Linked DNA regions of Homo sapiens: region 2 is linked to region 1. A link means that fine-mapping ties the variant in region 1 to the expression of a gene that starts in the linked region. Tissue or cell type: putamen. Region 1 holds a variant in brackets; the other region holds the start of a gene. All regions are shown on one strand. Distances are from middle to middle. Region 1 overlaps TOM1L1 (target of myb1 like 1 membrane trafficking protein). Region 2 holds the start of TOM1L1 (target of myb1 like 1 membrane trafficking protein).

Region 1 (5,375 bases):
TGGCTTCAAGTTGGGGTTCCCATGACTGCTTCTTTGGGTTTGATTAGTTTGCTGGAGCAGCTCACAGAACTCAGGGAAATACTTATATTTACTGGTTTATTATAAAGGACATTGCAAAGGATGCAGATGAAGAGATGCACAGGGCGAGGCATGCGGAAAAGGCCATGGAGTTTCCGTGCCCTCCCTGGAGTCCCACCCTCCAGGTACCTCCACGTGTTCAGCTATCCAGAAACTGACCTGACCCAACCCCAACCCAGTCCTCTAGGGTTTTTAATGGAAGCTTCTTGATGTCAGCATTCCTTCCCCCAGGGTATAGGGCAGGACCCTCTCTAGGGAGGCTCTTATGACCCACAGTGACAAAGGTGGGCGATTAGAGTGGTGCCTTGGGGCAGGTGAAAGGAGGACTAGAGAAGGTCGAGAGATTCTGCTTCCAGAGGCTGGCTCCTAAGGCCTGACACACCCAACATTATAACAAAAGACTGTAACAAGGGCTATGGGAGTTGTGAGCCAGGAACCTTAGACAAAAACCAGTATGTATCATAAGACCACAGTTGCCAACAGCTGAAAACTCGGATATTTGAAAATAAAAATTCTGGACTTCTAGATCATTTAGATACTCTGTCAACACGAAGCCTGAATTTTTACGTGCTAGCTATGGGCTGGGGTTGAGTAGTAGCTATCTCCTTTACACAGGTAGGCTCTGCAGCCCCTCAGGTCCTGTTACCACCCAAAAAACCCAGGGTTCATTCACCTGGATAGTAACAGATATCTGACTCTCCACAAGGACACAGGTTTTGATCAATAGGAATTTTATTACTTAGCACAAGTAAATTCTTTAGGGGCCAGGATCAGAAAGCGTTCTTCTGTAACTTCTTCATGTTGACCAGGGACACTGTATCCAGAGATGTTAGAGGAGTGAAAATCTCTAGGCACTAAAACTAAATATGTTTTAGGGTCTCCCAGGATAGGTTGCAAAGGCACCTACAGTTGAAATTTTTCTAATCTGGAAGATACAAATTTTACGAAGAGGTTAAAGATGCAGGGACCAAACAACAGTAGTAAGAGCAATAAAATTAGTGGCCTCATTAGGGGAAGAAACCAAGTAACACTTGGTATTGCTAATTTGAGAACTTCTCAAACAGAATTAGAAGTATGGCTATTAGGCCTGATGTGGTGGCTCACCCCTGTAATCCCAGCACTTTGCGAGGCCAAGGCGCGCAGATCACCCTGAATTCAAGATCAGCCTGGGCAACATGGTGAAACCCCGTCTCTACTAAAAATACAAAAATTAGGCAGGTGTGGTGGTGCGCACCTGTAGTCCCAGCTACTCAGGAAGGTGAGGCAGAAAAATCGCTAGAACCCAGGAGGTAGAGGTTGCAGTGAGCCCAGATCGTGCCCCACTGCATTCCAACCTGGGCAACAGAGCGAGACTGTCTCAAAAAAAAAAAAAAAAAAAAAATATGGCTGCTGATTAAAAGTGTGGAACCAAGAGGCTTGGGCATGGACCTTCCTAATGTTAACTTCCTATTTCCCCTGAGGTATTTATTCAGGTACAGCAAGAGGAATTAATAACTGCACACTCTCCTCCTCCCTGTTCTGCTAAGAGGCAGTCTAATGCTATACAATTATCTAGTACCGCATTAGCCAAGGAGTCATATGAGGCCCCAAGTCTGGAACTTCCCCAGGAACTAGGGCCAGCATGGCAGTGCCATGGGCTCAGAACACCTCTATTCTGTCCTGATTTAGAGAAATTGTGGCTCCAAACTTAGTCAGAAGGTCCCTTCCCAAAAGGAGAATGGGATGTTTGGGGAACAGAAGAAAGAATGAGTGAAAGTTTTAGATACTATTTCATGGACCAGAGGCTCCAAGAATCTTTTATTTCCTTTATGAGACACACCCCTTATATACATTTCTTCCTGGATAGGGTCCACTTTTAGTGATCAACACAGAAAACATGGCTACAGTGTTGATCAAAAACTCAGCTGGTGGCCGGGAGCAGTGGCTCATGCCTGTAATGCCAACACTTTGGGAGGCCAAGGCTGGAGGATCACTTGAGCCCAGGAGTTCAAGACCAGCCCTGACAGCATAACGAGACCTTGTCTCCACAAACAAA[C/CA]AAAAAAATCAGCCAGGTGTGCCTTAGTCCCAGCTACTTGAGAGGCTAAGGTGGGAGGACTGCTTGAGCCTGGGAGTTGGAGGCGGCAGTGCGCCATGATCACGGTGCTGCACTCCAGCCTGGGTAACACAGACCCTGTCTCAAACAAACGAAAAAAAATCCAACTGGTTGCCCCCCTTCTTCTGTGTAACCTGGGGCTCCTTGGGGGAGATGTGGATCTTGTTTTGAGGAGCCAGGCAGGGAGCCCCATGTCCCCATCCATCAGTTTCTTGTCCAGTTACAGGGAACAGGTACCTTGGGCTTGTCCTCCTCCTTCCCTCTCTGGGGATGATTTGGACATTCCCTTTCCTAGCATCCTTTCTGCTTCCAGTAAGCATATTGTTTGGGCCCCAGTGTAGGCAGGCCCTGAGTTCCATGGTGGGGGCCCTGGTCACTCACCCATGCCATCTTCTTCCTGGGCTTCCTGAAGTAGTCTGTAGGGCTGCCGCATCTTCTTGTCTTCCTTTTCATCAGATGCCACATCTCTTTACTATAGACCTTAAAGGAGATGTCTACCAGTTGGAAAGGGGGAGTATGTGGATTTATTGCCACTTTTTAGAGTTTTCTCTGAATATCTGGGGCTGAGAGATGAAGTGAGATTAAAGTACTACTCAGCTTTTGGGTCATCTGGGTCCCAAGGGGTGTAATTCTGGAGGCATTCTTATTATCAATTTAGGAATGCTGATGGATTTTCATTAGGGCCTTGTTCTATTTCTCTGAGATTTCCCCAATTGACCAGGGACTGGCTTGCTTCCCTCATACCTCTGAGAAGCATATTCCTATAATGATGAAGCCACTCTTGATTCTTGTTATCACTGGGGTCCCAGTTTGGGTTGGCTATTGGGACTGACACCTCAACGGGCCAGGTCACCAGGTTATCAGCACACATATTGTCTGCCTCCTCCTTAGTTTTGGCCATGGTGGCAGATTTATCTTCTGCTGTGAGCAGGGTTGCTGTTACGGTCTGCACACCTGGCCAGGTAGGGTTATGTGTGGAGAATATTCTCCATATGAGAGTTACGAACTCTCGTGGGCTCACCCATAAGCCCTTACTATGGGATTTCCAGTTATACAAGTCAACAGTTTTAAAAAACACATAGACCCGAGCAAAACCTCTTTCTCCAACAGGCATGCTCTGAGTGGCAACAGTCACCCTCCAGGGTTATATGCGTTCCCACTATGAGTGGTGCTCCCTGGCAAAGAAGAGTGCAACAGGGGCCTGCTATTGCCATAGCAGGAGCCACAGCTGGCTCTGCAGAGTTTGGAGGGCCTGGCAAATACAGAACGGGCCCTTGCTTTTCCCTGGAGGTGCAGAGGGTACCATTTCCAAGAAGGTGGACTATGCCCCTGTATTGGCCAAGGTTCCAGTCCCCGAGTAGAGTTAGAGGGCCTCACTTCTCTTGGAGGGGGTAGTAAAGGGACTCTTCTTACTTGTTCCCTTCCCTATAGGCCCCCACATGACTGATGCTTCCTCTCCAGAGGCTTCTAGAATTGGCAATATAGTTCCCTTTGGCCAATTTACATATTCTGCATTTCATCTGCAAGGCAGGGTTTTGATAGAGGGCCATAAAACATTGCATATAGGGCATTTCTTCCCATTTACCATGTTTCTTGCAAAAAAAGTCCAATTGGAGAGTTGCAGTAAGTGACCCATATTCAGACCATCTCTTCTGATCTAGGGAATACTGGAGCCAGGCTGTATTACAGTAATATATCATTTGCTTTTTGGTCATGGGTGGATATGCAGTTTCCATTGCCAGAGGAGGCACCCTAACAAGCTCTCCTTCCAAGACCTAGTTCACGACATTCTACGGTCTCTGCACACAGTCTGAGGGGCTTCCAAACTCTGGAGATTAATGATGACACAAATCCCACAACTCAGCTTGAATACTTCTGGTCCTCTTTGCTGGCCACCATGCAAAGCCATCCAGAGGTCCTGGGAAGCTGAGAGGATAACAGGGATTTCCTTTCCCTGGATCATGTTCGGTCCGGGCAGCCTCCCAGGAGATCTCATGGAGACAATGAAGTAGTTCTGGATCCAGCTCAGGTGGTGGGGAGGTAGGTAAATCAATCAAGTGAGTGAGGTGTTTCCTCAGAGAAAGCACACACACTGTTCATGTAACCTTTGTATCACTGCATTCTGGTTCCAGGGATCATGATCCCACCAAAACTGCCCCCTTTGAAACTTGGGTCTCCTCATCAAACTAACAGCAGTCCTTCTGTGACTGCTGCAAAACAAAGCCTGATATTTTAGGGGTTGCCACAGACTAAGGGTAGAAGAATCCAGACTTCATATTCATTCAGGCCACAGACAAGTAAGAATATTGAGCCCTACAGTTATACCACGTAGGGAACAAAGCCTGAAGACAAGCATCCTTGTCTTTTTGTTGGGGATTCCCCTTGTTAAAACGATGGCGATGTCTCTCAGTCTCCCAGACCTGAAAGAAGGAACTTCTTTTTCTCAACAATCCTGGATCCCTTGACCTAGGTCCTAATCCTGACAACCCAGAATCCTAATGATCAAAACCCAGACCACTCTTTTAGTAGTTCATGGAGCTGCTGCTTCAAAGCAGCACCGAGCAAAAGGTCTGGGCTCTAGGCAGCCGCTTCTACTCTCCCAGAGAGGTCTTGTGGTGCTGGTCAGTGGACTACACTAGACACCAGGTCAGGGGTCCCAAGGCCCTTCTCTAGTCTCCTTCTTGGCAACTGAGGTGAGTTGGCCCACGCATGCTTCCACATCCCACTGCTTTGCCTGCCAGGAGCCTATAAGGGAGGTCAAGTCAGGGCTCAACCCTGGGTCTCATCTGGGGTACCAGACTTGTTACCCCTAAAAAAACCTGAGATTCATTCATCTGGTAATAGACAACTCTCCATGAGAACACAGGTTATTATTATTTTTTCTTGACAGGGTCTCACTGTGTCACTCAAACTAGAATAAAGTGGCATGATCACGGCTTACTGCAACCTTGACTTCCCAGGTTGAAGCAGTCCTCCCTACTCAGCCTCATGAGTAGCTGAGACTATTGGGGTGTGCTACCATGCCTGGCTAATTTAATTTTTTGAGACAGAGTGTCACTCTGTCATTAGGCTGGAGTATAGTGGGGGTGATCTCGGCTCACTGCAACTTCTGCCTCCCAGGCTCAGGCAATTCTCATGCCTCAGCCTCCTGAGTAGCTGGGGACTACAAGCATGTGCCACCACGCCTGGCTAATTTTTTTGTATA
Region 2 (5,375 bases), 53 kb before region 1:
ATGTGAAAAATTATTGACTTATTTCCCCCCCCTTTTTTTCTTGAGATGGAGTCACTCTGTTGCCCAGGCTGGAGAGCAGTGGCGTGACCTCGTCTCACTGCAGTCTCCGCCTCTCGGGTTCAAGCGATTCTCCTGCCTCAGCCTCCCGTGTAGCTGGAATTACAGTCACCTGCCACCATGCCCAGCTAATTTTTGTATTTTTAGTAAAGACAGGGTTTCACCATGTTGGCCAGGCTGGTCTTGAACTCCTGACGTCAGGTGATATGCCTGCCTCGGCCTCCCAAAGTGCTAGGATTACAGGTGTGAGCCACCGCGCCCAGCCATTACTTTGGTTTTTCTAACATGAAAAATAAAGTAATAACCGTACTGGTCTCATAACGTTATTATGTGATTAAATGAGATAACGCATGTAATATGTTTAGAACATATCTGGCATATAGTTCTAGCACAAAAAATATTCGCTATTGAACAAGAACAGAAAAAAAGCAGGACCTTGTGCCAGCAAAGTATATGACTTCCCCTATTCCTGTATTCTTCAAGAGGTCTTGCACTGAATCAAGCAGATCCTTTAAAAAAGCAAGACATCAGGCTCAATAAACAGATTCACCTAGTGACAATAATATAGGCTTTGGAACCAGGCAGCCATGAGTCAAACTTTAGTGAAGCCATTTATAAACTTGATCTTTCTGAATCTCAGATTATATATTTGTAAAAATGAGGTTAATACTACCCACCTCTCAGGATTGTGAAGATTAAGATAGATTTCTAGTTGCAGACACTTAGCACATTTTACATAAATAAATGTTGACTAAGTGTTCTTGGAATTGAAATTGTGGTAAGATTTTACTCCTGGTGTCATTTTACCCCTGTGGGATTCTGCTCCTTCTCTGACCTCAACTTAGCTGTGAATTCTATTGTCCCCGCTGCTAGACTTTACTAACATTAACCACGTTGATTTTCATGCCTGGAGAGAAGAGGGATCATGCAGAACGGAACAGAGTACAGGAAGAGAAGGCTGCAACAACCACCACAACACCCTGGAGGGCACAGGGAGAGAGAAAAACTTCTGCCAGGCATTGCTGAGATAGAACACAGGTAGCACTCATCAACCTTGGTTCTGTTCACCCAAGCATCAAGTCCAGAAGACACTCCTTGCTACTGTTTCTCCTCTTTCTCGGTGCCTCAGTCCTGTCATGTAAGGAAATCAGACATAGGAGAAAAAAACAAAAAAAAAAAAAGAAGAAGAAGAAGACGAAAAGAAAAACCTCCCACATAGAAGTATGTTAAAAATCTATCTCTCTGGATGCTCGGTTCCTTTCTCGTTCTCATTAACTGATAGAAGGCCACTGACACCAACATTGGCCTAAGCTAAAATTGGTTTTCTTTTTCAGAGATTGTAGGTTGATTCTAGGTTGCAGAAAAGGCAAAATATTTTGCTAGAGGCATGGAATACAGATTAGGTTGGTGATGTCACAAAAGAGGTTTTCAACAGTGTCAGCAGAGGCTATAGTGATGAGTAAGGAAGTTGATAAACGGCAACATCTGAAATAGCTACTCGCCCTGAATAGGCAGGTGGAGAATATTAGTTACACGTGGGACAAATCCCATTATGAGACATATCATCACAACAAGAATATTTCATTCTAGATTTTAGAATCCCAGGTTTTGGCTCACTTTGGTCAAGAAAAATTATAAATAATTGAGTTACAGATAATTAAATGTTAGCCTCCTGGAGTGCATGGCAATTGGTTTTGACCTCTATATTAAAATTCACAAGACCACGGACATAAGTCAAAACAGGTCCCCTTCGTCTCCCTAGTCACCATCTCCAGGGCTAAAAAACAGACTTGAAATGGGTGGCAGTTAGACTACAGGAAACAGGATCTACAAGCACCAGGAGCTCATCTATGGCTATCTGACATCGCCTGGGGACACCTCACTCTCTGGCAGGCTCCTGCTGGCTGGAGATTGTTAACATCGCCAATCAGATGTTAATTGAATGCAAAGGAATAGGAAATAAATTCTGGTTCTGAAGGGGCAGCTGGAAAGGTGTTGGGCTTCTCAGATTCCAACCTACATTACAAAGCAGGCCTAAAGCCAAGCATACTCCTTGCCAGAAGAAACGGAAAGCCCCTCTCCCGTTTTTAGAATCAGGCTGGAAAACACGGCTCCCAGAAGGTGGGGTTAGAAAACAAGAGCTTGCGAGGCGGCGCCCTGTGGTCCCTCGAGGAAATAGTAGAGAGACAAAGAGGGCCTGCTCCTGGGAAGCCCTAAATTCGAAGCCAATCCTTCCTCCTAGACATGACCACAACTTTAAAGGGCAGGGCGCACACCTCCCCTCCCGGATCTCTAGGACAAAGGCAGGTCGAGGGTAAATATTTCTAGTTATTCAGTATATTCAGTGGCTAACTATTTATTTTGTGGGTACCAGACACCGACATAATCGGTTACGTCCTTCCCTTAATTCTCATAATTCTGAGGTTTGTGTTATTAACCCCCTATTATCTTTGGTCTACCCAGGGCAGCCAAAGAGGCGCAGAGAAGAATGACAAGGTGCCCAGCAAGCGGCAGGATCAAAGCCTGGGTCTCTAATTCCCAGGCTGGAGATTCTGGGCTGCCTGCTCCTCCTGCACGGGGCGAAAAGCCCACCTGGGATCCGAGCGGGCGGCCGCGCCACTCTCGCAGGCTCCATACACCCGCCACTACCCGCCTGTACCACCTGCAGCCGGCAGCGCAGCCTCCTCGCGGGTCCCGCAGGGCGCGCTGCAGGTGCGCTGGGCGTCCCGAAGCCCCGCCCTCGCGTCCCTGCCCCGCGCCCAGCTCCTCACGCTCGGTGCCCGCGCCCCGCAGCGGCAGCGCAGAACGCACCGCCTCTGCCAGAGCCCGGGAAGCGCTCGGGCGAAGAGGAGGAGCCAAGGGTACCGAGCGGGTGGAGTCGGGAGCCGGAGAGCGGTGGAGGCGGATTTCCTGGGCCCGGCCCTCTGGCGCTACCATGGCGTTTGGCAAGAGTCACCGGGATCCCTACGCGACCTCCGTGGGCCACCTCATAGGTAAGGAGGCGCGGGGAGAGACGCCCAGGCAGGCAGGGGACCGTGGGATCCTTTCCTGCTTGATCCATTCTCGGCCTGCAGAGGACGGAGTTAGTCCAACTTGAAAAAATTATTCCCCTCCCCCCGCAACTTTCCCAAGGCACCCGCATTCCACCCGGCCCCCTTTCGTCGTTTCCTTCTTGGCCAACTCACTGTAGAACCTCAGTCCTCAAAAATGTACCTTCCTTTCGATGCCGCCTGGGGAGTGGAACCAAACAGGTGAACCGCGGGAGTCAGGCATGGAGTGTTTGGGCCTCCACGAGGAGACACCAGAAACTTCTCGGTAGGGGAAGTTATTCCTAAAGGCACATTCTCCAGGGCACGGTATTGTTATGCCCGTTTTACAGATCAGAAGAGGAGGCTCTGGGAGACTAAGTGATGTGGCCTTACTGTGAGGGGCAGGTCTCCCCAAACCAGTTTTCTCTAGTGCCAAGCTTATACAACCTGGATTACTTTTCTGGGTAAACAAAGAGAATGAAAATGCTTGGCATTGGAGTGAAGAGGAGGGGAACATAGGAGCCATCTGGGGCCACGGAGGTCTCTCGCAGGCCACTAGGGACTACACCAGCATCCACCTAAATGATTTCTCTCTCCTCCGGATGTACCTTGCATGATGTATGTAGAAGCCAGTGATTGGACTCCTACCAGCACCAGCTCACTGCTCCTTCTTTTCCCTGATTCCTCCCTTGGGAATTGGGTGTGGCACGAGTGCATATTAATGCCAGGCAAAGTGTGATGATGTCAGGAACTTAGTGGGGTGATGAAATCGTGAGAACCTAGTAGTTGTAGTAAAGAGGCCCAGATTTGGAAAATTTAGATCACAGCTCTACTAACTGCTGTGACACCGAACACACCACTTAAACAGAACCTTAGTTTACACATCCTTATAAGATGGTCAGAGTAGCTACCATTGAGGAGATGCTTTCCCTTAATGGCTGTGCTTTTTTGGATATTAGAATGAACCCCAAGCAGAAATGGATTCAGACTGTGTCTTCATAGGCAAACGAAACTTCAGCAGTTCTTCTGCTTAATTTTTTAATTCTGTAAACATGGACTAACTGTCAGCTATGTGCCTGGACCTGGATCAGGCACTGGTGAGGCCAAGGTGAGACGTGGTCTCAAACCTGAGGGAACTCACTTTCTTGTAGAGAAGACGGGCACAGTTTTGTGTGGCACCTTTGCAATGCAAGAAAATGCAAAACACACAAAACTTAGGAGAAGGGAGAAATGAATTCTGCGTGGCTTTTGAAGGGTGAATAGGAGTTTTCTTTTCTAGGGAGGTAAGCTTTGTCCATTCGGTGCCAGATTCAAGTTTTTTGTTGTTGTTGTTTTGTTTTTGTTTTTGTTTTTGTTTTGAGACGGGGAGTGACACCCAGGCTGGAGTGCAGTAGCTCTCGGCACACTGCAACCTCCGCCTACCGGGTTCAAGCACTTCTCCTTCCTCAGCCTCCCGAGTAGCTGGGACTACAGGCACATGCCACCACGCCAGGCTAATTTTTGTATTTTTAGTAGAGATGGAGTTTCACCATGCTGGCCAGGCTGGTCTCGACCTCCTGACCTCAGGTGATCTACCCACCTCGGCCTCCCAAAGTGATTGGGATTACAGGCGGGAGCCACCGGGCCCCGCCTCAAGTGGTTCTTTTCCTGGATTGAAAGCAAGCTAAACTTTGGGGTTCCCCCAAGCAAGTCCTTATTCTTCCCCTTCTCTATCTTTTTTGTTTTTTTCTCCATTTCCCCCAGAACCCGGTGTTTTCATGCTTAGGGATCTTGTCCTTCTCTTAGGAAGATGTTAGCGCATTCATACTGAGTGTTCCATTACCCTTTCCAGATAACATCTTGTATTCTTAAAGCGGCTGTCTGGAGAGGGAAAGATGCCTGATTATCTAATCATAGGGTTCCAAGTGCAGAAGCATTCTGGTCAGCCTGGTGCAGCTGTGGTTAGTTTAGATGCTTATTATTATTAGTTCGGATAGTTATCCAGCGCCAGTTTGAAATAATTAAGGCTGAAAGTAAAAGTGTATGCAATGGAAGTTTTTACATAGTTGAGGTAAGCAGTGTCTTTGCAAGTATTGGTTGAAGTTATAATAATTGGTAAAATTAGAAGGAATCGTGAGATTAAGATGATAGGACAATAAACGTATTACTTTTATTTGGAGTTGTGCCAATGTTTTGGCTCCTAAGAACAACGGATTACTTCTCTCCTTTAAAAGTTCTTTCCTCCTGTCCCCCCAGAGAATAAATTATTTTTAAAAACAAACAGTGGGACCAAACAACCTAGATTTGAAT

Evidence for each region. PIP is the estimated chance that this variant, and not a neighbour inherited with it, causes the effect. A credible set is the group of variants that fine-mapping cannot tell apart.
Region 2: TOM1L1 starts here. The variant in region 1 is the best candidate, but not a certain one, in a credible set for the expression of TOM1L1 in putamen (GTEx, PIP 0.66).

What each region holds. Positions count from the first base shown.
Region 1 is chr17:54,951,110-54,956,484 of GRCh38, forward strand. All of the region lies in intron 14 of TOM1L1 (target of myb1 like 1 membrane trafficking protein), which reads left to right. It also overlaps a transcript of COX11 not described here. Among named protein-coding and RNA genes, the nearest start is that of COX11, 15 kb to the right of the region's middle. The variant C/CA (reference allele first, on the strand shown) is at 2,114.
Region 2 is chr17:54,897,874-54,903,248 of GRCh38, forward strand. It overlaps TOM1L1 (target of myb1 like 1 membrane trafficking protein), which reads left to right and starts at 2,979. Exons shown (of 16, transcript NM_005486.3): 1 at 2,979-3,050. The coding sequence starts at 2,993. LOC124904033 (a long non-coding RNA gene) reads right to left here and starts at 2,864. Exons shown (of 2, transcript XR_007065854.1): 1 at 735-2,864. RefSeq lists a silencer at 2,654-2,993 and enhancers at 3,074-3,183, 3,204-3,293.